Linked DNA regions of Homo sapiens: region 2 is linked to region 1. A link means that fine-mapping ties the variant in region 1 to the expression of a gene that starts in the linked region. Tissue or cell type: gastroesophageal junction. Region 1 holds a variant in brackets; the other region holds the start of a gene. All regions are shown on one strand. Distances are from middle to middle.

Region 1 (8,099 bases):
CCTGGCACACAGTAGGTGCCACCTAAGTGCAGCCAGCCACTATACCTGCCGTTGCTTTCTCTGCTTCTCTGGGACTTGAGAGGTGAAGTACCTTGCCCAGAGTCAAAACGGGAGTTGTCTCCCAGGTTCCTGGCACGGGGCTCTTGGAGTCGAACGAGTGCCCGTCAGTGGGTTTGACGTGCAGGCAGTGGGCAGGGAAGGCTGAGGGGGTGGATGGTTTGGAAAGACATCTAAGGTATCCCTCAGTCTCTGTCTGCATAAAGGCGGCAAGACAGTAGCTACCACCTGGGATTGTAGAGAAGATTAAATAGTTTGTGAAATGCTTGACCCAGGGCCAAACATTAGGAAACATCATTTGAGGGTTAATTGAACAAAATACAGTGTGGGTAGGTATCACGTGTTTGCTGGGTCAAGATGTAGAAGGTACTTCTTCCTGGGGTCAAGATTTAAAAGGGTTGGAAACCGCTGCCTTCAAATTCACAATCCAGGACCCACGAATTCAAAATTCCCCTCGGACTTTGCAATCCTTGGAGTGCCTCTTAATTTAGTGTAACCTTACAGTCAGTCAGGGACAGGGTAACCCTCCGGGTTTCAGCACCGCGAGTCTGCTGTGCTCTGTCTGTGAGGAGGTCTTCACTGGGTCACAGCAAAGAAAAACACACAGCAGTAGTGCTGGACGTGGTCGCCAGAGCCCCTCGCGCAGACAAGCCGGGACGCGGCCCCCCTGCCAGAGCCCCTCGTGCAGACAACCCGGAACGCACAGCCCCTCCCACCATCTCAGTCTGTGCGTTCGTTCACTGTCCCCGTCTCCTCCCACGAGCTCCAGGAAAGTGGGAGCTGGCACACAGTGGGTGCGCAAGCCGTGCTTACTGGGATGCCCAGAGCCTGAGGTCACCAGGGAGCTGACAGCTGCAGGGAGCTCTCCCTGGGTCACAGCAAGGCAAGACACACAAGCAACAGCGGAGGGCAACAGTGCGTTCTCAAAGGGAGAGCTGGTTTCCGCCTGCTTCTCGTACAAAACGAGGGGCAGAGATGGCAGGGGCCACCCCGCGAAACACTCGATTAAATCCCCGTTCACAAACCTTCCTGATGCCTGGCAGCCCTATCCCTGCCCCCGAAACCAGCATCTGGTGAAGGCAAGGAGAGGCACCTGGAAGACCTCAAATCTTTGCAGGTCTGCAAAGCCACTGAGCACCCACAGACCCCAAGGACCTGGTTCCGACTCAAGGAAGAACAAGGACGGTGGTGGCGGAGGGGCTCCAGAGAACTCGTAATGCCTCTGGTGAGGCCACCGCCGTCCTGCATCTCTTGATGTGACTGGTGACAGCCCACCAGGGCGGGGAACCGGTTCACCTCCCAAGTGCTCACCGGGGGCCGCGCTTTCGACTCTCCCTGCACAGGCCGTGGGTCGTGGCTCCGGGTGAGTGGAAACATTTGCCCCGCAGCGACCACCGCCCCTCCCTCCCCGACCTCGAGCCACAGGACCAGGGGACGGGGCTGGGCTGCGCTCTGGGCCCCGCGATGCCTCCGGGAGGCACGGCCGCCCTCTGCTGGACACGCCGAGGAGGCGCTCCACGCCAGGGTCTCAACATCCTCCTGAGAACAGCCCAGCAATGGGGCAAATAAACATCAAGGACCCCCTAGCTGAGTCCTGATACCTGTGAAACAAACAGGACACCCCGTTACATTTGAATCCCAGAAGAGCAACAAACCGGTTTTCAGTATGTGTCCCGAATACTGCATGGGACATACTTACACATTCGTTTATCTGTAATCCGAGCCCAACTGGGCATCCTGTATTTTATCTGGCCATCCTACCCAGGAACTACAAACCGAGAAAACAAGGACCATCAGGGAGAGAGAAACAGCTGGGTCAGGTCAGTGGGGGCCCAGACAGCGCCAGTCCAGGGCCCGGACATCTTCAACAAAGCCTGGGCCTGGGAGGCTGAGGCTCTGGGGACCGTGGCCGGTCCAGGACCATCAGTTCTGAGCGACTTTCTCCCTCCCCCACTTCCACCCCCACAGAAATTGTCTCAGGAGGGCTGATCTCCAGGCAGGCCCCTGGCTAACGCCTGCTTCCTGGCACGGCCATGGACTCTGTCCAGAACAGATTTCCATATTTGGTTAGCAGGTAGGAAGGAGGTCATCAAAGACCTTCACTTCACTGTAAAAGGAAAGCATTAAATAAACGAACACAAATGACTTTTATTTATGGCTGCCGAAAAGCTGAGGACAGTAAGTTTGTTCTAGAGAGGTATGAGCTCCCCTGAGGTTAGTCAAGACCAAGTCTGGTGGAGGCCTCATTAGTCCTAGGAGCCTGGTGTCAGACAAATCCGGAAGAGCCCCAAGGCACAGCGGGCCCTCCAGGTCCTCCTGCCTGGGTCTGGGCTGCAGGAAGGGCAGGATTCCACCACCCCACAGCTAACCCAGAGGCAAAGCTACGCTACACAAGCGGTGAGCAGGCCAGCCCAGCTCCTCGAGACCAGCACATCAACCCAGCTGCTGACAGGAGAGGGGCAAGCCCTTCCTGAGGCAAAACAGTATCCCCTCTGCTCCTTAACTGTCTTACCCACATCTAGTGCACCCTCAGAAACACAAGACACCATGGACAAGAACAGAATATTAGTCAACAATGGCATCCCAGGGTCTCTCCCAGCTCCAACCTATCTTAGATATTCCAGTCAAATCCAATCTCCCTAAAGCGTGACTCTACTTCAGCTAAAAAACACACTAAGGCTCCCCACTGCCTTCCCAGTTTCAGATTTCTTGGCCTAAGAGGGAAGTTGTTCCTGCACTGCCCTCCTGACCTCTGTGCTCACCCCACACAAATGGGACGCTCATGCCTCTGGGTGGCTGCGCCCGGCCTGCCCATGTGCTCCTCCCTCTTACTATTCCTTCTCCATGGGGCCTGCCCTGCTACCGAAGGGGAACAAGGGACCCTGGCCTGGCCAACCAGGAAACCCCTTCTGCTCGGCAGTTCCTGATTCAGTTATGGGCACGAGACCCAAGAACAAATTTTACCCAGGAGTTTTGTTAGAACAGTTGGGCAAGATACAGGCTTCCCACAGAAATCACAGATGTAAGGTTGTGTGCCTGGAGCTTCTGGTGCCATCTCAGTCGCCACAAAGGGCGCTGCCCCTGAGAAGAAGGTCAGTTCGGGCAGCAGAGAAATAGAAGCACCGAAACATCATAATGTGGATGGTGACTCCTGATTCCTGTTTCTGGAGGCCCTGGCATCCCCGGACTG[G/A]GTCTTAAGAGTATAACTTTCGGGCTGGGCACAGCGGCTCACGCCTGTCATCCCAGCACTTTGGGAGGCCGAGGAGGGCAGATCACAAGGTCAAGAGTTTGAGACCAGCCTGGCCAACATGGTGAAAGCCCGTCTCTACTAAGAATACAAAAATTAGCCGGGCGTGGCAGCGTGTGCGGTGTGGTGGTGTGCGCCTGTAATCCCAGCTACTCCGGAGGCTGAGGCAGGAGAATCACTTAAACCTGGGAGGCAGGGGTTGCAGTGAACTGAGATCACACCACTGCACTCCAGCCTGGGCAACAAAGCGAGACGCCGTCTCAAAAAAAAAAAGAAAAAGAAAAGGAAAAAAAGGGCTGGGCTCAGTGGCTCACGCCTGTAATCCCAGCACTTTGGGAGGCCGAGGCGGGTGGATCACCTGAGGTCAGGAGTTCAAGACCATCCTGGCAAACATGGTGAAACCTCGTCTCTACTAAAAATACAAAAACTAGCCGGGCATGGTGGTGGGTGCCTGTAGTCCCAGCTACTCGGGAGGCTGAGGCAGGACAATATCACTTGAACCTGGGAAGTGGCAGTTGCTGTGCGCCGAGTTCACGCCGCTGCACTCCAGCCTGGGCGATAGAGCGAGACCTCGTCTCAAAAAAAAAAAAAAAAAAAAAAAAGCAAAGCAATAGGATGACAATGATTTAAAGTAACTATTATTAAAAGGTTAAAGATTACAGAAGAAAAGATAGGGGCAAGGTGAGAAAATGGAGAATTTCAGCAGAAAAATTAAAAACACATAAGAGCACCTATTAAAATATACAATATGGGAAATAAAAATTTTGTGAAACAGACTAAATAGAAATCTGGAATATCAGAAAAGAGGATTGGTAGCATCAAAGACATGTCGATAGAAATTATTCAGAGGCCGGGCACACTGGCTCACGCCTGTAATCCCAGTACTTTGGGAGGCCGAGGCAGGTGGCTCACGAGGTCAGGAATTCAAGACCAGCCTGGCCAATATGGTGAAACCCCGTGTCTACTAAAAATAAAACAAAAATTAGCCGGGTGTGGTGGCGCACACCTATAATCCCAGCTACTGGGAAGGCTGAGGCAGGAGAATCGCTTGAACCCAGGAGATGGAGGTTGCAGTGAGCCGACATCATCGACATCATGCCACTGCACTCCAGCCTGGGTGACAGAGCAAGACTCCGTCTCCCAAAAAAAAAAAAAAAAAAAAGAAATTATTCAAACAGAAGCACAGAGAGAGAGAAAAATAAAAGAGAGAGCTGTGAGGCAACACCGAGGGTTGTAACATTAGTGACTGGAGAGACTGTGGGTCACCCATGGCCATGACACCAGTGACTGGAGAGACTGTGGGACACCCATGGCCGTGACACCAGTGACTGGAGGGACTGTGGGTCACCCATGGTCGTGACACCAGTGACTGGCGAGACTGTGGGACACCCAGGGCCGTGACACCAGTGACTGGAGGGACTGTGGGACACCCATGGCCGTGACACCAGTGACTGGAGGGACTGTGGGACACCCATGGCCGTGACACCAGTGACTGGCGAGACTGTGGGACACCCAGGGCCGTGACACCAGTGACTGGAGAGACTGTGGGTCACCCAGGGCCGTGACACCAGTGACTGGAGGGACTGTGGGACACCCATGGCAGTGACACCAGTGACTGGAGGGACTGTGGGTCACCCATGGCCGTGACACCAGTGACTGGAGAGACTGTGGGTCACCCATGGCCGTGACACCAGTGACAGTGACTGTGGGACACCCATGGCCGTGACACCAGTGACTGGAGGGACTGTGGGACACCCATGGCCGTGACACCAGTGACAGTGACTGTGGGTCACCCAGGGCCGTGACACCAGTGACTGGAGGGACTGTGGGACACCCAGGGCCGTGACACCAGTGACTGGAGAGACTGTGGGTCACCCATGGCCGTGACACCAGTGACAGTGACTGTGGGACACCCATGGCCGTGACACCAGTGACTGGAGGGACTGTGGGACACCCATGGCCGTGACACCAGTGACTGGAGGGACTGTGGGTCACCCAGGGCCGTGACACCAGTGACTGGAGGGACTGTGGGACACCCAGGGCCGTGACACCAGTGACTGGAGGGACTGTGGGTCACCCAGGGCCGTGACACCAGTGACTGGAGGGACTGTGGGACACCCATGGCCGTGACACCAGTGACTGGAGGGACTGTGGGACACCCATGGCCGTGACACCAGTGACTGGAGGGACTGTGGGTCACCCAGGGCCGTGACACCAGTGACTGGAGAGACTGTGGGACACCCATGGCCGTGACACCAGTGACTGGAGGGACTGTGGGTCACCCAGGGCCGTGACACCAGTGACTGGAGAGACTGTGGGACACCCATGGCCGTGACACCAGTGACTGGAGGGACTGTGGGTCACCCATGGCCGTGACACCAGTGACTGGAGGGACTGTGGGACACCCATGGCCGTGACACCAGTGACTGGAGAGACTGTGGGTCACCCATGGCCGTGACACCAGTGACTGGAGAGACTGTGGGTCACCCATGGCCGTGACACCAGTGACAGTGACTGTGGGACACCCATGGCCGTGACACCAGTGACTGGAGACTGTGGGACACCCAGGGCCGTGACACCAGTGACTGGAGAGACTGTGGGACACCCATGGCCGTGACACCAGTGACTGGAGAGACTGTGGGTCACCCATGGCCGTGACATCAGTGACTGGAGAGACTGTGGGTCACCCATGGCCGTGACACCAGTGACAGTGACTGTGGGACACCCAGGGCCGTGACACCAGTGACTGGAGAGACTGTGGGTCACCCATGGCCGTGACATCAGTGACTGGAGAGACTGTGGGTCACCCATGGCCGTGACACCAGTGACAGTGACTGTGGGACACCCATGGCCGTGACACCAGTGACTGGAGAGACTGTGGGACACCCATGGCCGTGACACCAGTGACTGGAGAGACTGTGGGACACCCATGGCCGGGACACCAGTGACTGGAGAGACTGTGGGACACCCATGGCCGTGACACCAGTGACTGGAGGCTGTGGGACACCCAGGGCCGTGACACCAGTGACTGCAGAGACTGTGGGACAACACCCAGGGCCGTGACACCAGTGACTGGAGACTGTGGGACAACACCCAGGGCCGTGACACCAGTGACTGGAGGGACTGTGGGACACCCATGGCCGTGACACCAGTGACTGGAGGGACTGTGGGTCACCCATGGCCGTGACACCAGTGACTGGAGGGACTGTGGGACACCCATGGCCGTGACACCAGTGACTGGAGAGACTGTGGGACACCCATGGCCGTGACACCAGTGACTGGAGGGACTGTGGGTCACCCAGGGCCGTGACACCAGTGACTGGAGAGACTGTGGGACACCCAGGGCCGTGACACCAGTGACTGGAGGGACTGTGGGACACCCATGGCCGTGACACCAGTGACTGGAGGGACTGTGGGTCACCCAGGGCCGTGACACCAGTGACTGGAGAGACTGTGGGACACCCATGGCCGTGACACCAGTGACTGGAGGGACTGTGGGTCACCCATGGCCGTGACACCAGTGACTGGAGGGACTGTGGGACACCCAGGGCCGTGACACCAGTGACTGGAGAGACTGTGGGTCACCCATGGCCGTGACACCAGTGACTGGAGAGACTGTGGGTCACCCATGGCCGTGACACCAGTGACAGTGACTGTGGGACACCCATGGCCGTGACACCAGTGACTGGAGAGACTGTGGGACACCCATGGCCGTGACACCAGTGACTGGAGAGACTGTGGGTCACCCAGGGCCGTGACACCAGTGACTGGAGAGACTGTGGGTCACCCAGGGCCGTGACACCAGTGACTGCAGAGACTGTGGGACACCCATGGCCGTGACACCAGTGACTGGAGACTGTGGGACACCCATGGCCGTGACACCAGTGACTGGAGAGACTGTGGGTCACCCAGGGCCGTGACACCAGTGACTGGAGACTGTGGGACACCCAGGGCCGTGACACCAGTGACTGGAGAGACTGTGGGACACCCATGGCCGTGACACCAGTGACTGGAGAGACTGTGGGACACCCATGGCCGTGACACCAGTGACTGGAGAGACTGTGGGACACCCATGGCCGTGACACCAGTGACTGGAGACTGTGGGACACCCAGGGCCGTGACACCAGTGACTGCAGAGACTGTGGGACAACACCCAGGGCCGTGACACCAGTGACTGGAGGGACTGTGGGACACCCAGGGCCGTGACACCAGTGACTGGAGAGACTGTGGGACAGCACCCAGGACAGGGCACATGTACCAAAGACCCAAAAGACAGAGTGGGACATCAGAAAAATTTGAGAAATACTCCTTCAGAAATGGAACTCTAAGAAAGCAAAAGAAAACAGAAATATCTGCAGAAATAACAGTCAAGACTTCAAAATCTGTTAAAATGCACCCACCCTCAGGTCGAAGTAGCTCAGTTTAGAAAGCTAGACCCAGGTGCATCACAAACGGCCAAAGTCCAAAAATAAAAGAAAATCATGTATATAGTCAGAAGTAAGAGATTTCACAGTAAGGAAAACAGAATGAGAAAATTCCTCATCAGAACAGTAGAAAACAGCATGAATAGAACCACCTTAACATGCGCAGAGAAAAACACAGTCCACTTAGAACCGTATATCCTGTAAAAATGCACTTCAAAAGAGGAGGAGGAATTAGGGCCTTTTGATCCACGTAAGAGCTAAGCCTAGGCAGAATGTCACTGCAGAGGAACTACAAGGCAATATATATTAAATACGGCACTTCAGACTCAAAGAAAATTATCCCTCTTGGCAACACGGAGTCTGAATGAAGA
Region 2 (8,093 bases), 47 kb after region 1:
ACAAAAAAAGTAAACTACAGAAAAAGTTATTAAGAAAATTGTAAGAAAGAGAAAGTGTATTTACTATTCATTAAGTGGAAGTGGATCATCCTAAAGGTCTTCGTCCTCATCATCTTCACGTTGAGTAGGCTGAGGAGGAAGAGGAGGGGTTGGTCTTCCTGTCTCGGGGTGGCAGAGATGGAAGGAAATCCATGTATAAGTGACCCATGCAGTTCAAACCCGTGAGGTTCAAGGGCCAACTGTACAGCAACGTACAGCAAAGCCACGGAAGGGAGCTGGGGCAGCCACTGGCCCTGGAGTGACTCTGGCAACAAGGCTGCCAAGGACCAAGGAGCACCTCAAGCTCTAAGTGGAGACTGACAGGACCCATCCAGCTTTAGAAAGTTTAGCTCCGTGGTGGCAGAGGGCAAACAGAAGACAGAGGGAAGGAAGAGCCAGCAGGGCCCCCAGGGGGAAGGGGCCACGGGACTGGAAGCAAGCAGCACAGAGTGCATGGCAGCTGCAGGGGCATCTCACGCCTCCTGCCCTGGGGTTGGCCTGGGTCTGGCAGAGATGGCCTCACCTCTTTCCAGGACACAGCAGGTGGCCACCAGCCCACAACCACTCTACACAGCCACACGCGGTGTGAAGCCACAGGGAAAGCATCCTAAGTGACCTCTGAAATCACCCTCAGCCCCCTCTAGGACCCTCTGGGTAGGGGTCGAGGACAGGTTCTCTGGGCAACGGTTCCTGCCTCAGTCAGGGGCTGGCTTTCTACTCCCGCAACCAGGAGCCTGACTAACAAGGGGATGGCAGGCGACCACATCAAATGAGGCCCCAGTCTGGACGGCAAGTTGACAACAGTCCCGCAGGCTTGAGATCCACACCGAGTAACAGGGAGTTAACATATGGCCCCAGGAGAGGTGGTCTGCAGGGTCTGAGGAGGATCTGGCCCTTATATGACGTGCCATTTAACAGGAGAGCTAAGGCAGAGGGGGGCAAAGAGGGAAGCGGCTGGGAACGGCAGAAAGGGCCGCTAACAGGGAGGCCCTGAGCAGCCTGGGATCCCCAAGTTCATTTCCAGGCGACTCTGAGTTCCTGGAACTTACCACGGAATACAGACTTCATGGATCTTCTTCCTCCCGCTGCCCCTGCCTGGTGTCCAGGTGCAAGTCTACTCTCAAAGCAGGTTCCCAGGGACTCTACTTCACTCACTCAGAACACTCTGCATGTTTCCCTCTGAGTTCACTCCCAGGAAAGACAAAGTCCTCTGTTTTGTCAAAGTGGAAGCAGGAAAAAGAGGGGGAGCAGGCCAACGGTATTCCAGGCAACAAAAAAAGCAAAGGAAGCGTAAACAGCATTCTAGAAACAAGGTCCAGAGGACAACAGGCCACAGACCCAGGCGTCCACCAGGGTCTTCAGGCAGTAGAAGCGGCAGCCAGCTACTCAACATAAAGACTGCACCAGAGGACTGGGTGCAGAGCACAGACCAGCCCTTCCCCCAGGGCAGCCCCCACAGGTATAGAGTGCACCAAAAACACAAGAGGCCACCCTGCAAAGCTTAACCCAAAATGACAGGGTGGCAGGTTCCATTCGCCAAGATGGCTGCACCTACCTCTCCCATGCCCCAAGCCCTCTCCCCAGTGTGACTGAAACAACCTCCTCCTAAGAGCCATGCTTGACCCTCCTCCCACCCACACCAACTCAAGTGCCAGGCGCTTGTTGGACTACCCAGCACCCCACTCCTCCGTCTGACCAATGTTCCCTGGGCGCCCACTCTGGGCTCAGCAAGGCAGTGGCGTGGTGGTTAACCTGAGAAACAAGTTCCACCTGCCTCCACCCACATGGAGTTGCTAGTTTTGGACACAGACAACAAACAAGTGGACATGTATGGTACCGAGAAGAGAAAACAGGGCGCACGGGCTCTGCAACTGCGGGTCAGGGAAGGCCTGGGGGGCCTCAGTCGAGGTGGAACCATCGTTGGCAGCCCCCAAATGGGTAGAGTGCACCAGCAAACAGGAGCCCAGGGCCCTAGAGTAGGGGGCAGATCCGTGGGGACCACCTCACAGGGCTGTGGGACTCAGCAAGGAGGAGCATTTTATCCCAGGGACCATGAAAAGCCATGGAGGGTTTTAGGTAGGAGCAAAAGATGGTGCTCTTAGGTTTTTAAAAGATCAATCTAGTATGCCTGAGAAAAGTATGAAGCATTCCCGTCTGCCACTGTGGTGCTTATGATTATTCTGGGATACTGATACAGAATAAAGTAGCTAGTACTGATCACGTGCTATAAAGTTACAAATTGCCACTTTTACGGGTTAAAAACAGTGGAATATCGTCAACTTCACAAGATTCAACTTCCATGTACAAGCCGTTGTGGCAGGACCTCATCAGACCTCCTAGCTCTGAAGGGTGACCATTAAACTTCCCATTTCAGAGATGAGGAAAAGGAAGTTCTGAGTCACTGGGCAACCTGCCCAAGACCACACAGAACAAGTCCGGTGGTCAGACAGCTTGCCATGGCTCCTCACGCTCAGCACCTCATACTTGTTGGTCCTAACCCACCCACGTCTCTCTCTGACCAGACTCTGCATCCCTGTAGGAGAGGCCCTGTCTGCTCCATTCACTCCCAGATCCTCAGGCCGAGGACAGAGCGGGACCTCCTTAGAAAATCAAATCAAATTCACTCAACAGGGCACCACCCCAAAGTGTAAAACAGGGTTAACAGGAGCAGCCGGACCACAAGCTGCTGTGCACATTTACGGAGCTCAGCCTAGAGCAGGGCAGAACAGCCACATGGCAGCTCTGGGGGAGGCTGGCTTGGGAGTCTGACTTGTGCCATCCCAGACACAGAGCTACCTGTCAGGCCACGTGTGTTGCCCAGATTCCAGGAGCACAACTCATTCGACCACCACGTCGCTGCAGGGCCACTGGGAGACGCGGCTTCTGCCTCCGACCCTGGAGGACAGCCACCATCTGCATGGGGACTCAGTCTCCCTAAGCGTCTCAAGAAGAACTAATTCTCGATGAAGGAACTGGCCGGTGGTCTGGCCTAGTATCGAGACACCTACACCGTCTTTGGCATAAACACAGGGCCTGTTACTGCCCCTGAGGTCGTCACCAGGGGGAGAGAATGGCCAGTCCTGCCTCCCACAACGCCCAAGACATAAACACGCAACGTGGCACCACGGCCAGGCCGCAGTTCCAATCCCGGCTTCCCACGAGGCGGCTGTGCCTGGCTGGGTGGGCACCTTTTCCTTTGGGCTCTATCCCAGAGATAGGATCAGCTCTTGAGTCTGCCCGCCTGTCGTAACTTCTGCGCACAGAAGTCATGCACTGAGTCCCACTGACTGAGCACCTCGCAGCCGCCGCACCTTCACCTACATTATCTCTTTCCATCTTCACCAGGGCCCTCCAAGGTGAAAGCAAGTCCACACAGGCTCATCCACCACTCCAAAATCAAAAAAAGCTTCAAAAGCGAAAGTTTCTTCCTTCCTGGTTTGACCTGACACGAAGCTATCTGTTGTCTTATCCTAGACAGTCCTAGGTGGGTTTGATCAAACATCACAGTCCAAAATCCCACAGATCCTCAAATTGGAAAAATTCTGGATTCCAAAATATAGCTGGTCCCAAACATTTCAGATAAAGGGTCCCGGGCTTGTTTCCTGGACGAGGGAGGAGGCTCCAGAAGTAACTTCGTGCCCGGGAGAGGCTGGTCCAACTCTTCTGAGATCAGCCCCGACGCTCTCTAGGCCCCGGCAGACCCACCCACCCTGCGCCCAGTTCGCGCCAGGCGGGTCCGCGTCGGGAGTTCAAATCCCGCCCGGGGTCTGACCCAGCCCCGCCGGGGGGCTCGCGGGCGGCGGAGGCGCGGTGGGTCCACCGGGATCCCGATGGGGAGCGCGGGGCGCCTGGCGGCCCCAGCACTCGGCAAAGTTGGCAAAGGCGCGGGAGGGGAGGCCTGCGCGCCGCGGGGCCCGGGCCGGGGCCGGGAACCGGAGCCGGACCCTGGAACGGAGCCGCGCGCCCACCGGACCCCCGACACCAGCCCCGCCCCGCGTCCCTCCCCTCCCCCACCCCGGCCCCCGCCCGCCCCGCGCCGCCGCGCATGCGCACTGCAGCCCGCGATGTGGCAGCCGGGGGAGTTGGGGGGTGGGGGCCGGCCGGGGGCGGCCGCCGATGGAGCCCCGCGCCCCTCCGGCCCCGGACGGGCCAGGCGCCCCGGCCGGCCTCAGAGCTCCAGAGCGGGGCTCTCCGTCCCTGGGGCCCACGACGAGGCCGAGCCACGGCGGCGGGGGGCGCGGACGCGCGGGGGCGGGGGGCCGGCTCCCCCGGCCCGCTCACTCACCTCCGCCATGGCCGTGTGTGCGCGGGAGGCGGTGGCCGCGCCGGGATCCCCGGATGAGGGGCCGCGCACTCATTGGCTGTGGAGCCTGGAGGGCGGGGCAGGGGGCGGAGCCTGGAGGGGGCGGAGAGCGGGCCGGGCGCGTAGTAGGTGCGCGGGCGCGGGCGCGGGCGCGCAGCCGAGCGTGGCCGGCGGCTTCTGGCGAGCTTGCGGTGTCTTTCCGGCCGTCTCTGCTGGACCCTGATCTTGGCCTTGGCCTTGGCGGAGGAGACTGCATTCCATAAAAATACGAATTCCTGATAATCACACCTGCGTGGGGACCACGTGGTCCTGTGTGACCTCTTCATTCCCTCGGCTGCTCGCTGTTAATACCCCGCGTGGCAGACTAGGAAACTGAGGCCCAGGGCGACGGGCCACCCAGAGTGTCAGTGATAGAGCCAGAATTGGTGTCCGGGCTGCGTGGTTCTGGAATTTTCTGCACTTTCGCACCCGTGATGAGCAAACTAGCGCGCGGAGGAACCAATCGGGGAGCTTGCGAACGCGCACCAGTCGGAGAGGTTTTAGAAACGGTGGCCCCGCGCCGGAGAGCCCAAGGCGGGAGGCAGGGAGGTGGGCTTGACCCCAGGGCCATTTGGTTCTGCAGTCCGTCGTTTCGCAGATTGAACATTTCTGGAACACGTGCACGTTCTGATCCTGAGGGTTTGAAGGAGACAGCCCTAACGCCTGTCTTCAGGGCGTTTAGAGTGGAGGATGGGAAGGCAAGGACTCGCCACACCTTAAATTTGAGACGGATAAGTGCCGTGAATCTTCGGGGCGCACGATGCAGAGAGAGGATAGGAAGCAGGGGTGGGGCGTGAAGAGGCAGGGGCCAGGTGGGAGCTGTGGGGCCTGGACCAGAGTGCAGAGAGACTTGAGAAGGTGGACACCACAAGACTCGCTGATGGAGGGAAGCTGGAGAGAGTGAAGGATGGCCTCCAGATGTCTGGCTTGCGCAAATGAGTGGAGGGCGGTTCCTACTGAGACCAGGAAGAAGAGAACTGGAGACCAGGAAGAAGGGAATTGGGGACCAGGAGGAAGGGAATTGGGGACCAGGAAGAAGAGAATGAGTCTCATTCCTGTTTCCCAGTGATCAGCCAATGAATAGTGAGAACTTGACATGCATCAGCCTTGATTCCTGATGCAAAATCATTACTCAGTCCTCTGAGAATTCACCAACCAAGAGATAGAAGAACCACTCTGGAGGGGTCTACCCTCACTCCTTTTTTGGTTTACATCATTGAGATTGAGGGTTCTGGCCCTCGTGTTGAAGAGTCCTCACTGATTTGTGCAAGAGTTGGTTCCTTCCTTTATTATTCATTTGTTATTATTCATTCAGTCATTCAGTGAACTAAACACATATCTTATGCAGTCCTCAACTGGGTGCTGGGTAGCCAGAGGTCCTGTGAAGCAGGGAGAAGCATGAACAGATAAGAGAGTGAGGTGCTGTGCTGTAACAGGTGGAGGGGCCCGAAGACAAGGGCTTGAGTCCACCTGGCAAAACGAGGGAAGACTCTTAGGAGAGGGCTTGGCAAGAATCATCACATAGATGTCAAATGAGGACTTGGGTGAAGAGAAGGGTATTGTGGCTTGGAACGGTGACTCACACCTCTAATCCTAACACTTGGGGAGGCAGAGGCAGGAGGATCACTTGAGGTCAGGAGTTTGAGACCAGCCTGGGCAACAGGGTGAAACCCTGTCTCTACTAAAAATACAAAAATTATCCGGGCGTGGTGGCGAGTGCCCATAATCCCAGCTATTCTGTGGAGGCTAAGGCAAGAGAATCACTTGAACCTGGGAAGGCAGAGGTTGCAGTGAGCTAAGATCACTGCACTCCAGCCTGGGAAACAGAGTGAGACACTGTTTCAAAAAAAAAAAAAAAAAACTTTAAACATTAGAGGGCATGACGATAATGTGCCTGTAGTCCCAGCTACTCTGGAGGCCGAAGTGGGAGGATCTCTTGAGCCCAGGAGGTCGAGGCTGCGGTAAGCAGTGATTGTGCCACTGCACCCCAGCCTGGGCAACAGAGTGAGACCTGTCTCAAAAAAAAAAAAAAAAAAGAGTGAAGGATATTTTAAGGTCTGAAAGTCTGTCTCCGTAGACTGTTAGTCGCAGTGGAGAAATGAAGCCACTTGTTGGGTGGGTGATAAAACTCAGCATCCCTGGTAAAGGGCAGGTGCACACCATGTGCACCTGGATGTGGTGTCCAAAGCAGGACACGGCATCACTGAATCCAGCCAGCAATGCACAACCCATATCTACATATGAGGAAATTTCAGACAAACCCAAATAAGGAATATTCTGTTAAACAAAAGAGGGACTGTATTCTTCAGAAATGTTAATGCCACAATGGGGCGTGGTGGCGGGTGCCTGTAATCCCAGCTGCTCAGGAGGCTGAGGCAGGAGAATCACTTGAACCCGAGAGGCGGAGGTTGCAGTGAGCTGAGATTGCGCCACTACACTCCAGCCTGGGCGACAAGAGCAAAACTCCATCTCAAAACAAAACAGGCCAGGCGCTGTGGCTCACACCTGTAATCCCAGCACTTTGGGAGGCTGAAGCAGGAAGATCACGAGGTCAGGAGTTCAAGACCAGCCTAGCTAGCATGGTGAAACCTGATCTCTACTAAAATAATACAAAAAATTAGCCGGGCGTGGTGGTGCACACCTGTAGTCCCAACTACTCGGGAGGCTGAGGCAAGAGAATCGCTTGAAACCGGGAGGTGGAGGCTGCAGTGAGCCGAGATGGCACCATTGCATTCCAGCCTGGGCGACAGAGCAAGACTCCGTCTCAAAAAAAAAAAAAAAACCACAGCGACAACAACAAAAAAAAGTTAATGCCAGAAAAGATAAACCTGTGTAAATCTTTTTTTTTTTTTTTTTTTTTTTGAGATGGATTCTCGCTCTGTTGCCCAGGCTGGAGTGCAGTGGCACAATCTTGGCTCACTGCAAGCCCCACCTCCCGGGTTCACGCCATTCTCCTGGCTCAGCCTCTGGAGTAGCTGGGACTGCAGGCATGTGCCGCACCTGGCTAATTTTTGTATTTTTAGTAGAGATGGGGTTTCACCATGTTGGCCAGGATGGTCTCGATCTGTTGACCTCGTGATCCACCCACCTCACCCTCCCAAAGTGCTGGGATTACAGGCGTGAGCCATAGCACCCGGCCAGTACGGAGGGTTTCTACTATACTCATTCTTGCAATTATTCCATGAGCATAAAATGAAGTAAAACTCAGAAAATAAAGAGCAGCGAATCTTGAGCAGGGAGCTTAAGGGGAGAGGCTGGAGAGGGTGCCCCTGGCCGTGGCACAGTGGTTTGAGTGGACACCTCACGTTGGAGGAGATACGCCTGCATGTGCCTCCACTCCAGGCTCCCTGTTTCTTCTCTGCCTGGTTTTCATGGTCACCGGGCAGCTCCCAAGTTTGACAGAGGCATGGTGTCCCGGGATGAGGGTCCAGGTCACCGCATCGCTACACCTCTTGGAGCAGATGGAGACTGCGTGGTGGAGCTGGGGGTGATGAATCCATTGCAGCCCCGAGGCGGGGAGGCAGGGGACGCTGTAGTTCACCCAAGCAGTGTCGTTCTTGCAAATTTTCCCTAGAAAAAAGAGGCCTCACAAGATACTGGAGGAGCTGTGAGTAGTGCATGGGGTGGCCTGTGGTGGATGCTGGGTGCATCATCAAACCCTCCCCTACACAAGCACTAACTTCCCCCTCTGCTCAGGGTCAAGTATCCCTCT

Evidence for each region. PIP is the estimated chance that this variant, and not a neighbour inherited with it, causes the effect.
Region 2: MIER2 starts here. The variant in region 1 is fine-mapped to the expression of MIER2 in gastroesophageal junction (GTEx, PIP 0.92).

What each region holds. Positions count from the first base shown.
Region 1 is chr19:293,778-301,876 of GRCh38, forward strand. No RefSeq gene overlaps it. Among named protein-coding and RNA genes, the nearest start is that of PLPP2, 6.4 kb to the left of the region's middle. RefSeq lists an enhancer at 220-1,069. The variant G/A (reference allele first, on the strand shown) is at 3,248.
Region 2 is chr19:340,450-348,542 of GRCh38, forward strand. It overlaps MIER2 (MIER family member 2), which reads right to left and starts at 4,347. Exons shown (of 14, transcript NM_017550.3): 1 at 4,325-4,347. The coding sequence starts at 4,333. RefSeq lists enhancers at 678-1,265, 2,452-3,403 and silencers at 3,712-3,821, 4,122-4,171, 4,242-4,691.